Homo sapiens: one gene and its partners. The protein of the gene in region 2 interacts with the protein of the main gene of each other region in a pairwise test. Each region holds a gene or a part of one and is shown on either strand. Other genes may lie near its edges.

Evidence for each region.
Region 1: the proteins of alpha-crystallin A2 chain (region 2) and TSACC interact in binary tests that used the Homo sapiens proteins (3 or more experiments, as listed by UniProt).
Region 3: the proteins of alpha-crystallin A2 chain (region 2) and NOD1 interact in binary tests that used the Homo sapiens proteins (3 or more experiments, as listed by UniProt).
Region 4: the proteins of alpha-crystallin A2 chain (region 2) and UNKL interact in binary tests that used the Homo sapiens proteins (3 or more experiments, as listed by UniProt).

What each region holds. Positions count from the first base shown.
Region 1 is NC_000001.11:156,344,511-156,347,495, forward strand, and holds the end of TSACC (TSSK6-activating co-chaperone protein), read left to right. Parts: intron 1-69; coding exon 70-198; intron 199-2,257; coding exon 2,258-2,472; 3' UTR 2,473-2,485; downstream 2,486-2,985.
Region 2 is NC_000021.9:6,504,908-6,510,178, forward strand, and holds part of alpha-crystallin A2 chain, read left to right. Parts: intron 1-1,895; exon of another isoform or gene 1,896-2,482; intron 2,483-5,271. UniProt on the Homo sapiens protein: Contributes to the transparency and refractive index of the lens. In its oxidized form (absence of intramolecular disulfide bond), acts as a chaperone, preventing aggregation of various proteins under a wide range of stress conditions.
Region 3 is NC_000007.14:30,468,785-30,472,284, forward strand, and holds part of NOD1 (nucleotide-binding oligomerization domain-containing protein 1), read right to left. Parts: intron 1-3,500. UniProt on the Homo sapiens protein: Pattern recognition receptor (PRR) that detects bacterial peptidoglycan fragments and other danger signals and thus participates in both innate and adaptive immune responses.
Region 4 is NC_000016.10:1,369,705-1,373,204, reverse strand, and holds part of UNKL (putative E3 ubiquitin-protein ligase UNKL), read left to right. Parts: intron 1-1,593; coding exon 1,594-1,686; intron 1,687-2,847; coding exon 2,848-3,075; exon of another isoform or gene 3,076-3,198; coding exon of another isoform or gene 3,199-3,271; intron 3,272-3,500. UniProt on the Homo sapiens protein: May participate in a protein complex showing an E3 ligase activity regulated by RAC1. Ubiquitination is directed towards itself and possibly other substrates, such as SMARCD2/BAF60b. Intrinsic E3 ligase activity has not been proven.

The DNA.
Region 1 (2,985 bases), on a different chromosome or scaffold from region 2:
GTGCAGGGATCTAATTAGAAAGGCTGTCCCTTGTTGGAATGAGCTCTGATTTAGTTATCTCTGATTTAGTTCCAGCCAAAGAGGAAGCTAATGCTGTGCCTCTCTGTAGAGCAAAACCCTCCCCCAGCTATATTAATCTTCAAGCAAGTTCCCCACCAGCCACTTTTCTGAACATCCAGACAACAAAGCTGCCCTCGGGTAAGGATGTAGGGAGGGTTTTCTAATGGACTCAACAGGGGGAAGGGTTGCATGGAGGAGGTGGCTTGAGCTGTCGCCTATTGATCAAGAGCCAAATCTATGTTAGGCATCTATAGATCTTTCCGTGATAGCTTGTTGATTATTTAGTTTCATTGATATCATTATCATCCCAGTTCTACCAACTTGTATTGTTTCCTTGCTTGTTAGCACTTTTGCTAGACTAGGCAGGAGTGAAGTGAACCTCTCATTGCTTACTGGTAATGTTAGTTAAAAGATGGCCAGGTTTACCCCTGTTCACTTGGGAAGGTAAAATTTTAAAAAACGGTGGCTAGAGAAGGAAACTATTAGCTCAGTCTCAGGGTCTTTGAATTTTCATCATTCATCTTCCCTTGGGGAGGTCAGTGGGTATTTGGCATAGCTATGGGGAACCCAACAGGGCACTAACTAGACAGTCATAACCCCTGTTTTTGAGGACCTCAGAGTCCAACAAAGAAGTCAAGACTGATAAAAATACAAACAGCAGATAATATAATTACCAAGGTTAACTGGCTGTGTAAAATATTAGAAAAAGTGGCTGGGCACGGTAGCTCATCCCTGTAATCCCAGCACTTTGGGAGGCCAAGGCAGGTGGATTGTCTGAGGTCAGGAGCTTCAGACCAGCCTGACCGACATGGTGAAACCCTGTCTCTACTAAAAATACAAAAATAAGCTGGGCGTGGTGGCAGGTGCCTGTAATCTCAGCTGCTTAGGAGGCCGAGGCAGGAGAATTGCTTGAACCTGGGAGGCGGAGGTTGCAGTGAGCCAAGACTGGGCCATTGCACTCCAGCCTGGGCAACAAGAGTGAAACTCCATCTCAAAACAAACAAAAGAATGGACTGGCAGGGCTCGGTGGCTCATGCCTGTAATCCCAGCACTTTGGGAGGCCAAAGCGGGCGGATTACCTGAGGTCAGGAGTTTGAGACCAGCCTCACCAACATGGTGAAACCCCATCTCTACTAAAAATACAAAAATTAGCTGGGCATGGTGGCACCTGCCTGTAATCCCAGCTACTTGGGAGACTGAGGCAGGAGAATTGCTTAAACTGGGAGGTGGAGGTTGCAGTGAGCCAGGATTGTGCCGCTGCACTGCATCCTGGGAGACAGAGCAAGGCTCCATTGAAAAAAAAAAAAAGAAAAAAGAAAAATATTAGAAAAAGAATGGACTGGCCAGGTGCAGTGGCTCACACTTGTAATACCAGCACTTTGGAAGGCCAAGGCAGGTGGATCACCTGAGGTCAGGAGTTCGAGACCAGCCTGGGCAACGTGGTGAAACCTCGTCTCTACTAATGATACAAAACTTAGCCAGGCATGGTGGCACATGACTGTAATCCCAGCTACTCAGGAAGTTGAGGCAGGAGAATTGCTTGAACCCAGGAGGTGGAGGTTGCAGTGAGCTGAGATCGTACCATTGTACTCTAGCCTGGGTGACAAGTGAAACTCCGTCTCCAAAAAAAAAAAAAAAAAAGAAAAAGAAAAAAAACAATGGACCAATGTAGCAAGAATGGTTGAAGTTAGGGAACTTCAGGTCACTGCTAATGATACACTATGTCAAGTAACAGAGGAGGCTGAGGTATCCCCTGAGCTCTAGGGAAGGTAGGCCTCCCTCCCAGACCATTTCATTCACTCATCAAATATTTGTTATATGCTGGGCATTTTTCTAGGTGCTAGGGTTAAAGTAGTGAACAAATCAGATAAAAATCCTTGCCTTCCTGGAGCTTACGTTCTAGAAGGGGGACTTAGACAAAAATTAAGTAATTATAAAATATGCCATATGACCATAAATATTATGGGAAAAGTGAAACAAGGGAGGGGGTAATAAGTTCCAGTGATTGATTTCAAATTAAAATAGGATAGCCAGGTATGCCTCACTGGGAGGTGACAGCTGGGCAAAGGTATGTCTGGGTTGGGTTGTGCCTGGAAAGATTGGAGAGGTCATTTTATTAGGGTCCTTCCAACCTCAGTACAATTACCAAATCTCTCTCCTTTGTTCCCTTGCACCTCCGTTGCTTTTCCTTCTGGAGTTGATCACAAGCCCAAGGAATGCCTAGGACTCCTGGAATGTATGTATGCAAACCTCCAGCTTCAGACCCAGCTCGCCCAACAACAGATGGCTGTTTTGGAACATTTACAGGCATCTGTGACACAACTGGCTCCTGGGAGGGGAAGCAATAACTCTTCTCTCCCAGCCTTATCTCCTAATCCATTGTTAAATCACCTGCCCCAATTCAGTAAATGAATTGTGGAACAAAGTTATTGTGTTGTTTTCCTCTCTCTTCCCAGTAAACCCTTGTTGGAATCTGGGTATATGTATTCTACATATGGTTAGTTTGTTCACAGGTTCATAATAAGTGCTCACTGAGTGCAAAGCGTTGTACAAGGCACTTGGGGTTACATATTACAAAAGGAGTTTGCAGGGATTACTGTCTAACAAAGCAGACAATTCATTGCAAAATGTAGTGGTATTCTGAAAGAGGATGGAGGTTAAGAACTAACACTGGAGGTTACTAGGATACAACTGGACCAATTTTAGAATCTTGCTGGAGAAAGTGGCTTCATGATGCCACTTGAAGAAGGGAGGGGTTGGATGGCATGGACAGATGAAGTCAGGTAGTTCCATATCAGTTGGGAAGCTTGGACAAAGACCTAGAGGTAGACGTATTAGTCCATTCTTGCATTGCTATAAAGAAATACCTAAAGTTGGGTGATTTGTAGAGAAAATATGTTTATTTTGGCTCATGGTTTGGTTCTG
Region 2 (5,271 bases):
TATTTTTAGTACAGACAGGGTTTCACCATGTTGGCCAGGCTGGTCTTGAACTCCTGACCTCAGGTGATCTGCCTGCCTCGGCCTCCCAAAGTGCTGGGATTACAGGTGTGAGCCACCGCGCCTGGCCTTCTTTTTTTTTTTTTTTTTTTTTTGAGATGGAGTTTCGCTCTCGTCACCCAGGCTGGAGTGCAATGGCATGGTCTAAGCTCACTGCAACCTCCACCTCTCAGGTTCAGTCAATTCTTCTGCCTCAGCCTCCCAAGTAGGTGGGATTACAGGTGCTCACCACCACGCCTGGCTAATTTTTGTGTTTTTAGTAGAGATGGGGTTTCACCATGTTGGCCAGGCTGGTCTCGAACTCCTGACGTCAAGTGATCCACCCACCTCAGCTTCCCAAAGTGCTGGGATTACAGGTGTGAGCAGCAAGATTTCTTTTTCTGAGCTGTCTTTAGAGTGGTTCTGACGCTTAGGAAGACTGCTTTGCATTTCTTTGGAGATGCTTGGTTCAGCCTTGGTTAAGTCATGACCTTCGTTATGCCATTACCTTGGTTAAATCTTTGTTTTTGAGATGGAGTCTCGCTGTGTCACCCAAGCTGGAGTGCAGTGGTGCGATCTTGGCTCACTGCAACCTCTGTCTCCTGGGTTGAAGCAATTCTCCTGCCTTAGCCTCCCGAGTAGCTGGGATGACAGGTGCATGCCACCACACCTGGCTAATTTACCTTGGTTAAGTCTCACTGGTTTTGTGAGTAACTTGAAAATGTCCATTTCGTTTTTTTTTTTGAGATGGAGTTTCGCTCTCATTGCCCAGGCTGGAGTGTAAGGGATGGCCTGATCTCGGCTCACTGCAACTTCGGCCTGCCAGGTTCAAGCGGTCCTCCTGCCTCAGCCTCCCAAGTAGCTGGGATTACATGCATGCACCACCACACCTGGCTAATTTTGTATTTTTAGTAGAGACAAAGTTTCACCATGTTGGCCAGGCTGGTCTTGAACTCCTGATCTCAGGTGATCCACCCACCTTGGCCTCCCAAAGTGCTGGGATTACAGACATGAGCCACCGCACCCGGCCAAGTTTTTTCTTTTTTTATATGTAATAAGTTGGATAAAGTGTTTATAAAAAGTTAAAAGTAGGCCCTCAAGCAGGTAAAGTAGGCTTGCTTCTTTTCAGAGCTATCCATGCTGATTCCAGGCATAGAGAATGCCTCCTTTGCCCTATTCATTAAAGGGCTTCACCCTGAAGTCAGTAATCTAATAGAGAAACAAGCTAAGTTGAAAAGACCCTGTGATGGTTAATATTAGCTGTCAACCTGATTGGATTGAAGGATGGTAAAGTATTGTTCTTGGGTGTGTTGTGAGGGTGTTGCCAGAGGAAATTGACATTGGAGTCAGTGGACTGAGAGAGGAAGACCCACCCTCAGTGTGGGTGGGCACCATCCGATTGGCTGACAGTGTGGCTGGAACAAAGCAGGTGGAGGAGGGTGGGAGAAGCTGGCTTGCTGAGTCTTCTGGCTTTTGTAGCCACCCAGTGAGTTCACCTAGCCGGCTGCCTAGATGGAGCGGATTTATCAGGACAGGGGAATTGCAATGCAGAACGAGTAATTTACACAGAGCTAGCTGTGCGGGCGACTGGAGTTTTATTATTACTCAAATTAGACATCCCAAGAATTTGCAGATCAGAGTTTTTAAAGATAATTTGGCGGCTCAGGAAGTAGGAGTGCTGATTGATCTGGCTGGAGATGGAATCACAGGGAGGTCAAAGTGAGGTTTCCTTGCTGTCTTCTGTTCCTGGGTACAATGGCAGAACTGGCTGAGCCAGATAGCCGGTCTGTGTGGTATCAGCTGATCCATAGAGTACAGGGTCTTGCAGAATAAATACCTCAAGCACTGATCTTCGGATTACAATGGTGATGTTATCCCCAGGAGCAATTTCGGGAGGTTTGGACAGCCAGAGGCTGGATGACCTTTAAATCAAAATTTCTTTTTTTTTTTTTCAAAGAAGCCCCATTTTATTACAGAGAGCATACAAAGCCGTTTCCTCATAAGGAAAAGTACAGCTTCCCTTCTCCAGGGTGACAGATGAGCCTTTTCTGAAGTTCTCAGCTTTCTCTTCTATCGATATTTCCCATGTCAGTTAAAGTGTTTGTAGAGACAGCTGATGCGTTTATTGAGGTTGTGCAGCTCATCAGCAAACATTCTGTTTCCAACCATTTTCTTCTTTAGCATACAGCGTTGCAATTCATTCCCCTTCCAATCTCGAAGCCATATGGGGTCCCTGATCAGCTTTTGGGGTGCTTTTCAAAGTTTCCCAGGATCCTGATGTTGTCATACACTCTGAACATGGCCATCCTTTCGTTCCAAGGATCAACTACTTTGGGGGGTAGGAGCCTTATACCAATCAATCTAGGAATACCAAGAAAGAAGCTTCTGCATGCCACACCTAGTCCCACAGGCGCCTACCTGCCCTACATAAGAGGCTCCCTGCCATTTCTCTAGTCTGCCCCTTCAACAGCACACCAAATAAGCCCAAGAATGAGGACCAGATGTGGCCTTCAAGAAGACAACAGGAACCGTCCCTGTCGACTTCACACGGGTACTAACGTGAAGGCAGCCACCTTGGGCCTTAAAATTTCTAATCTTGTAGCTAATTTGTTACTCCTACAAAGGCAGACTGGTTCCTAGGCAAGAAGGGGATCTTTCTGGGAAATGGCTATTATCAATTTTGTTTCAGAGTCAAACTATAAGCTAAATTCCTTCCCAAGGTTAGTTGGCCTGTGCCCAGGCATGAACAAAGACAGCCTAAAGGTTAGAAGCAAGATGGAGTCAGGTAGGTCTGATCTCTTTCACTGTCATCATTTCCTCAGTTGTAATTTTTGCAGAGGCAGTTTCACTTTCATCTTTCTCCTGTGCTGGATGCCTCCTCCGTTCCCCCTGCCCTTGGACATCAGACTCCAGGTTCTTTGGCCTTTGGACTCTTGGACTTAAGCCAGTGGTTTGCTTGGGACTCTCGGGCCTTCAGCCACAGATTGAAGCCTGCACTGTTGGCTTCCCTACTTTTGAGGCTTTTGGACTCCGACTGAGCCACTCCTGGCTTCCTTCTTCTGCAGCTTGCAGACGGTGTATCATGGGACTTCACCCTGTGATGGTGTGAACTAGTTCTCCCTAATATACTCCCTTTCATATATATGTCTATTCTGTTAGTTCTGCCCCTCTGGAGAACCCTAACTAATGCAGACCCTTGTGTAACTTTGATATCCAAAATATGGCTTTCTAGCATTTAGCTGGCTATTTTGAAACTCTTTGTAAAAAAAATTTATATATATGAAGGAAATCTCCATTTGTAAGGGTGTCTCCCTCCCTGCACCCAAACTGCTAGAAACTGAAGATGGGGAAGACATTGGCTGAAGACACTGTCTTACAGTTTACATCACAGACCTTGCCTTCGGTGGAAATACTTTTCCTGGCAACCTCGTCTTCACTAGGTGTAGGGACCAGCCCCACAGGATCGGTGGGTTTTTCTCCCCATGTGCAGAGACGAGAGATTGTAGAAATAAAGACACAAGACAAAGAGATAAAAGGAAAGACAGGTGGGCCTGGGGGACCACTAACACCAAGATGCGGAGACCGGTAATGGCCCCGAATGTCTGGCTGCGTTGTTATTTATTGGATACAAAGCAAAAGGGGCAGGGTAAAGAGTGTGAGTCATCTCCAATGATAGGTAGGGTCACGTGGGTCACGTGTCCACTGGACAGGGGGCCCTTCCCTGCCTGGCAGCCAAGGCAGAGAGGGGGAGAGAGAGAGACAGCTTGCGCCATTATTTCTGCATATCAGAGACTTTTAGTACTTTCACTAATTTGCTACTGCTATCTAGAAGGCAGAGCCAGGTGTACAGGATGGAACACGAAGGCGGACTAGGAGTGTGACCACTGAAGCACAGCGTCACAGGGAGATGGTATGCCTTCGGATAACTGAAGGTGGGCCTGAGGCCCTCCACAAGAGATGGAGGAGTAGAGTCTTCTCTGAACTCCCGTGGGGAAAGGGAGACTCCCTTTCCCGGTCTGCTAAGTAGCCGGTGTTTTTCCTTGACACTGACGCTACTGCTAGACCATGGTCCGCTTGACAACAGGCGTCTTCCCAGACGCTGGCGTTACCGCTAGACCAAGGAGCCCTCTGGTGGCCCTGTCCGGGCATAACAGAAGGCTCGCATGCTTGTCTTCTGGTCACTTCTCACTATGTCCCCTCAGCTCCTGTGTCTGTATGGCCTGGTTTTTCCTAGGTTATGATTGTAGAGCGAGGATTATTGTAATATTGGAATAAAGAGTAATTGCTACAAACTAATGATTAATGATTTTCATATATAATCATGTCTATGATCTAGATCTAGTATAACTCTTGTTGTTTTATATATTTTATTATACTGGAAAAGCTCGTGCCCTCGGTCTCTTGCCTCGGCACGTAGGTGGTTTGCCGCCCACAACTAGGCTTTTACCTACACCCTTCTTCCTTGGTTTGAATTCAGCTCTGTGCTTTTGAGATGTGAATTTTTTCTACTTTGTTTCACCTCAGTCATCCCTTTAGAAGTGCCAATTTAGTGTTGCCTAGCTAACAGTTGCTTAGGGATCATGTAAAAGGGGGAAATAAAAACTATTTGAGAGCATAATCAGGTTAAGTATTAATGCTAAAACTTACTTTACAAGTTAGTTGGTCTTGCTAAGATTTCTCTTTGGTAGAAATGGGGAATTGGAGAGAAGATTCTTTATAAAAACTATAAGATCTGCTTCTGTCTGTATGTCTATATGTTTATATGTGTCATGTGTATGTGATATTTCACTACCAAAATATATGAAAAAGCTATAATTAATTGGCTTAAAGAAGGGACTGCTTGGCTGGGTGCAGTGGCTCACACCTGTAATCCCAGCACTTTGGGAGGCGAAGGTGGGTGGATCATGAGGTCAGGAGATCGAGATCATCCTGGCTAACATGGCGAAACCCCATCTCTACTAAAAATACAAAGAAAAATTAGCCAGGCGTGGTGGCAGGCGCCTGTAGTCCCAGCTACTCAGGAGACTGAGGCAGGAGAATGGCATGAACCTGGGAGGCGGAGCTTGCAGTGAGCCAAGATCGCGCTACTGCACTCCAGCCTGGGTGACAGAGGGAGACTGAGTCTAAAAAAAAAAGCACAGTGATGCTAGGCCAGAGTCTGGGCCCCTGTGTCTGAACAGTAGGTTTTCTTGGAGTATTGGTGTGCTCTTTAATAGAAAATTGTAAGAGTTGGGC
Region 3 (3,500 bases), on a different chromosome or scaffold from region 2:
CTTCTCTTGAATATGATTCATTTTGGTGAATTTAATCCACAGGCTCCACAGTTTTACAAGTAAAGAAGATAATTATACTCTAGTTGTTGACATGAACTGCTTGGATGTTCAGGGTTGTGGTGATGACGTGAACAACAGACTTCTTCACTCTGCAAGTTACCCAACAGCAAGCTGGGTGGATGAAGCCATGCCAACAGCATCTGGCAGGAGCCAGCACCAAGCACACCTTACACAGCTTCGACAGAGCTGCACGGAGAACACATATGCTTGGTCAGCTCAAATGGTGTCCTACTTTTCCTGCTGCATGATCCACAACAATCTGTGTTCTGTTGTTGTCTGTTTGTTTTTCTTGCTTGGTTTACAATTTCTTAAGGAACTTAACCTGGAAAACAAGCCCGGTCATGTGGGCCTCTGCCATGCCAGAACACTATAGGCAGCCGACTCTGGAGACAATTTAGCAGATGGATGAAGCTACAATTATTATTGGAAGCTTTTTAACTCCATTGACACTCACTGACTTTAAGTATCTGAAAGCACTTAATCCCTCAGAATTTGAAAGCAGATGGAAGTCAGTCCCTCCCGGAATCACCTCTCTCTCTCCCGGCTTCCTTCCCCTCCCTACTCCCTCTTCCCTCCCTCTAGCTCCCTCTGTCTCTCATACAAAGTACCTTATAGTGTGAGCTCCAGACACACAGACACTGCCATCCTGCCTACAAAGAAAGGAATGCAGACACAGCCAACGTCAGCATTCGGGGTGGGACCACAGTGGAACGCATACATCCTTTCACAGCTGCCAAGGCCTTCTGGGAAGTCCAATGCCTGCCCCCACATCTCTCAGAGCCAAACATCTTCTTCTGGTCAGGAAACCCTGTTCAGAGTGCACAGAGAGCCAGCTCCTCCCTTCTCTGCTGAAATCCTGGGCTCCTGAGGTCAAACAGAATGTTGTCCAAGCCACCTATTTTAGAGATGGGAAAACAGAGGCCCTGGGCAGGGCCCTGGACTTGTCCGGATCAATCAAAACTAGCATCCAAGTCTCCTGGCTGCGAGACAGTTGCTTCTTTTGTCTACTTCTGGCCAGAGTAGCCTCCTCAGTAGCCAAACATTTCCTCCATCCCCCCAGCGGGGATGTCACCTGTCAGAATGGGAAAAGGGTAGGGTTCCCACCTTACTCTGTTTCTCCCCTAAGCCCATCTCTCCCTGCTGGGAAGGCCCATGGTATTCTATCCCCGCCTCTCTCAGAGGGCGTGCAACTTTGTGTCCTAAGTTGATTATTTTCCTTTCACATTGGTTGGTAGTGGCAGTGAAGGACACAGACTCTAAAGCCAGGCTATCTGGTTCCAATCACCAGCTATGTGACTTGGACAAATAATGCTCTCTTCTGTGCTTCTGTTTTCTTCTCTGTAAGTACAGATAATAACTGCACCTACTCCATGTAGGGATCTCTGTGAGCATGCAGTGAGTTAATACACGTACATACGGTATTTAGAACAGCACTGGTCACATAGTAAGCACCGGCCGTGACCTACAAGAGGGCAGCCTAGGCCAGCATTTCCATCTGTCATCTTCAAGGCCAGCACTGATGACAAGGGAGGGCGACCATCTGGTGAGTCACCGTATCTCCAGCACATAGAGGGTGCTCGATAGGAACCGTCGAATGAATGAATCTGGCCGGGTGCACTGCGTATAGCAGGTGCTTCATCATGTCCACTGATACGTGGATTTCCATAATTCACAGGCTCACTTAGGGAATGTCACTTACCAAGTTTATTGGTGAATAAATTCAACTTTCCATCACCAATAGTTTCTGTTGCTCTAAGGCATTTATCTTCGCTGCTGTCTTTAAAAGGTTAACCAGAGCCCAGCTGTCAATGTCAAAAGCATTGCCTGTGCGACCACTTGGTACTTAATCACCTACTGCTTGACATTTTCTTGGTTTTATCCAGGCTTTGAAAAACAAAGTTCCCAAAACACTGCACTTGATATTCATCTCTGAGGGGCCAGTGAATAAAAATATCTTAATGAAGAAAGCCAGCAGAAAACAACAGAGCCTTGAAGTGGAAACCGGTTTCCTGGAACTCCACTCTGCGAGAGGGCTGAAGTGTTTATGCAGAGGAAAGTGCCACAGAAGTGGCCGATCTGGAAGCTGGAGGACATCTGGATATGGCATTTAGGACTGACACAGAAAGTGTCTGGGGCTTATCAAGTGAAAAGCACTCCACAAGAACAAAATATATTAGTCACCACCAAAGTGGGAGTTGAAACCGGGCCCACAGCAAATAAACACTCTGCTGATCGCTGGCCAAAATGCTTAGCTGAAGACGTTTATTAACCCCATTGAACATGTATACAGAGTCAGCAAGCATCTAGGACACAAACCTGTCACAGAGCTAAGTGGGAGAGTACCCAGGGATTTATGTGTGGTGACCCTGAGTGGCATTAAGAGGTTGAGAAGATGATAGAGCCATAACCCCTAAAGCATCTGCCCCAGACACTGCACCCCTTGGGCCAGGACTGCTCTCTTCCCTCACTAAGTGAGGTCCCATGTTAAGCAGAAGGCCTGCCCAACCAGCCGAGATACACCTGGCCTGCAACACATCTGGCACTGCAACCTCATGACCGCTTCACAGCAAGGAAGGAGAAACAGGGTCAGTGCAGATGCCTGGAAGCAGCCAGCATGCAGTGCTAAGGATGTGGGTCCCACACAGTGGAGGCTTTTCCTGTGACCTGAAAACACCCAATAAAGAATTTTGTTTTTACCAAACCCTGGGTCTCTCAAGTGCACACAAATGATGAATTCAGATTTTCAAAGGTGAACAGAGCTGGGAAGGCACCCTCTTTGGGATTTCTGGGCAACAGCTAGGCGGAGCAGAACAGACTAGCGTGAAAAACTGACAGCCCTTCCCATAGCCAGGGGGCCCTGACATTTGGTGCCTACAGATTCTGACCCCCTGACCTGTACATGCCCAACCTCCCTCCACTCTTCGGGGTCTTTTGTTCCTGTTTCTAAAGAGCCAGGAAGGACTGGACTCCACCCTAGTCCATCCACTGAAGCTCCTGATGAAGGATGCCGGGTGCCTAGGAGGCCCATATGCATTTACACTCATCTGTCCCAGAAAACTACAGAGCATGTGCCGTGGGCTGGGCAGGCCTGGTTCCAAATCCTGCCTCTGCCTTCTTTCACTTTGTTTTGAGCCTCAGTTCCCTCATCTGGAGATTGAAAACTAGACACTCCAGAATTGTTTCACACACTAAGACAAGGTTTATATAGCTTAAGAAGTAGAGATTGTTCATTATCTGAATAAATAGAAGTGACTAATGATCTTTTTCTTGTATATTATGAATGACAGGAAAAAGTCAGGAGGGGAAATTCCTCCAAAGCTTCCCTCCGCACTTCAGAATAAAATCCCAAATCCTTACCCAGCCCAGGAGGCCCTACTTGGCCTGAGTGTGTCTCATTATTTAGCTCTGTACCCTCCTGGGCTTGGGCCTTACCACACCAG
Region 4 (3,500 bases), on a different chromosome or scaffold from region 2:
TGCTGCTGAGGTCTCTGTGCGGTGTTGGCCGGCAGTCCCTGTGCGGTGTGTTCCATGCTGCTGAGGTCTCTGTGCGGTGTTGGCCGGCAGTCCCTGTGTGGTGTGTTCCATGCTGCTGAGGTCTCTGTGCGGTGTAGGCCGGCAGTCCCTGTGTGGTGTGCTCCACGCTGCTGAGGTCTCTGCGGTGTTGGCCGGCAGTCCCTGTGTGGTGTGCCCCACGCTGCTGAGGTCTCTGTGCGGTGTTGGCCGGCAGTCCCTGTGTGGTGTGCCCCACGCTGCTGAGGTCTCTGTGCGGTGTTGGCCGGCAGTCCCTGTGTGGTGTGCTCCACGCTGCTGAGGTCTCTGTGCAGTGTAGGCCGGCAGTCCCTGTGCGGTGTGCCCCACGCTGCTGAGGTCTCTGTGCGGTGTTGGCCACAACACTGGGCTGGGCTGGGGAGGCGGCGCCGGCCCACAGGGTGTATCCCAGAGCTCCTGCAGCCGCTGCGGTCCTCTGGTCTGCCCCAGGTGGCACGTGGGCTCTCAGATCCCAGATCCTCTGGTCACCCCTCACCCCCAACCCAACTTCTGTGCAGTGGCTGCGGGAGTTTGAGACACGCTGTGGCTTCAGGGGCTGGTGGCCTGAGCTCAGCCTCCTCATGATGGCTTCCTAATTCTAGGAAGGGGCAGTGGGGTCCCTGCTTGCCATTCGGGGTTGGGGGTGGGGACTTGGGAGGGAAGGGCCCGTGCAGGAGGGCAGCCCCACGGCCTGCAGGGATGTGTGGGGACAGCCTTGGAAGGCAGGGCTGGCTGGGTGAGGCCACTCTGAGGCGGGTCCTTCCCACTCAGTCTTGAGCCTTGGGAATTGAGGTCTTGGTGCTTGGCATGAAATTGCACGTGAACACCTGCTCCTTGAAATCACCCTCACAGAAAGTTTTTTTTTTGTTTTTGTTTTTGTTTTTTTTGAGATGGAATCTTGCTCTGTCGTCCAGGCTGGAGGGCAGTGGCACGATCTCGGCTCACTGCAAGCTCCGCCTCTGGGGTTCACACCATTCTTCCGCCTCAGCCTCCCGAGTAGCTGGGACTACAGGCACCCGCCACCACGCCTGGCTAATTTTTTGTATTTTTTTTTTTTTGGTTGAGACGGGGTTTCACCGTGTTAGCCAGGATGGTCTCGATCTCCTGACCTTGTGATCTGCCCACCTCGGCCTCCCAAAGTGCTGGGATTACAGGTGTGAGCCACCGCACCCGGCCCTGGAAAGTTTTTTAAACAGTCGAATGTGCACACGTGGACAGATGCTAACACACACTTAGGTATTTAAACTCTGAGGGGCAGCAGCAGCGTGTCAGAGGCGAGGACCCAGCTGCTGGTCTGTGGTGCGGGGCGTCCCACCTGAGCACGCTCGTTTTGCCGGAGGAACAGCCAAGCCTCACACTGCCTGTGGGGGGCTGCGAGGACGGGCTGGGGGTGTCCTTCCCTGGCTGCCCCAGCAACTCCCACGCCTTCTGCCCTTGGTCTCACTCTAAGCCCAGGTGGGACGGTCGTCCTCCTCAGCTAGGCTTCCTGAGCTCTGCAGCGCTGGGTGGGCTGTGGATGATGGGGGGCTCTGTTGACAGGTTCTGCGTTAGACCTGCATCTTAGCAATGTGAATATTGCATCCCTAGAGAAGGACCTGGAAGAGCAAGACGGCCACGACCTGGGAGCAGCAGGTGAGGGTGGGGAGGACCTGGGGCCCTGCTCCTCCAGCCGCTGAACAGCCAAGTGCTGTGGCCGGAGGATCGCTTGAGCCCGGGGAGGTCAAGGCTGCAGTGAGCTGAGGTTGCACCACTGCACTCCTGCCTGGACCACAGGGCAAGACCCGGTGTCTGGTTTTCGGAGCGGGAGGATCCCCTTCTGGCGGTACCTCCTCCTCCTCTCCCTGACTGCCTCTCCCTTTCCCTCCCCTGCACATGGACTCCTCAGCATCTCTCCTGCCTCGGGCCTGCCCACTTCTTCAGTTGACCTTTGTCCCAGCAAAGTGGCCGCGCAGAGACAGGCGGGGCCTTTCCTGAAAGTCTTGATGGTCCCCGAAGGATAAATGTATTCACATTGTAGACAAAAGATTGACATCCATACAAATGTATCTTTTTTTTTTTTTTTTTTTTTGAGACAGAGCCTCGCTCTGTCGCCCAGGCTGGAGTGCAGTGGCGCGATCTCCGCTCACTGCAAGCTCCACCTCCCGGGTTCACGCCATTCTCCTGCCTCAGCCTCCGGAGTAGCTGGGACTACAGGTGCCCGCCACCACGCCCAGCTAATTTTTTGTATTTTTAATAGAGACGGGGTTTCACCATGTTAGCCAGGATGGTCTCCATCTCCTGACCCCGTGATCTGCCCGCCTTGGCCTCCCAAAGTGCTGGGATTACAGGCGTGAGCCAGTGCGCCCGGCCCCATACAAATGTATCTTAACATCGTATACAACATCTTTTCATTCAGCCTAAAAGTGTATCTTTTCTTTCTTTTAAAAGAAAGTAAACCATTTCAGGGGGCCTGGACAAGTGCTGGGAGGACCGTGCCAATGGCTTAGTTGGCCGGCAGGGCCTGGTGGGTGTCCGGCCTCTTTGGGGGGGGCCCATGTTAAACCCCCGTCTCCCCACCTCTGGTTGGAATCCCTTTGAGCCCATGGCTTGCCCAGCTGTGTTGGACATGGCCACCGGGGGCGCTGTGGCTCCAAACACATAGATGGTGGTGGCTGGCCTGGCCCCTATATTCCCACCCCCCATATCCCCACCACCACCACCTGCAGGGTCCGTCTTCCACGGCTGCCGCCCATGGCAGATGTTTGGGCAGAGGCCTGGCGGTACTCCCTTCGCTGACTGGTCCGCCCCCGCCAGGTCCCAGGTCGCTGGCCGGCTCTGCACCTGTCGCCATCCCCGGCTCCCTGCCCAGAGCACCATCGCTACACTCGCCATCCTCTGCGTCCACCTCGCCGCTCGGTTCGCTGTCCCAGCCCCTCCCAGGGCCGGTGGGCTCCTCAGCCATGACGCCTCCCCAGCAGCCGCCACCCCTGCGTTCAGAGCCGGGCACACTGGGCTCTGCAGCCTCATCCTACAGCCCCCTAGGTGAGTGCCGGCTCCCTCCATGCTGGCGTTGCCGTGAAGCCTCCGTGGGGCTCCCTCCCAGATGCCGTCCTGACTGAGGGGCCTCACACGGAACCTTGTGCCCTATCTGTGGTGGCAAACCACATGACCTGCTGCTCACAGGTTCCCCCACGCCGCAGACCGAGTCTCGCTCTGTCGCCCAGGTTGGACTGCAATGGTACGATCTCGGCTCGCCGCAACCTCCGCCTCCCAGGTTCAAGCAATTCTCCTGCCTCAGCCACCCAAGTAGCTGGGACTACAGGCGGGCGCCACCACGCCCAGCTAGTTTTTGTATTTTTAGTAGAGATGGCGTTTCATCACGCTGGCCGGGCCGGTCTCAAACTCCTGACCTCGTGATCTGCCTGCCTTGGCTTCCCAAAGTGTGGGATGACAGTGAGCCACCGTGC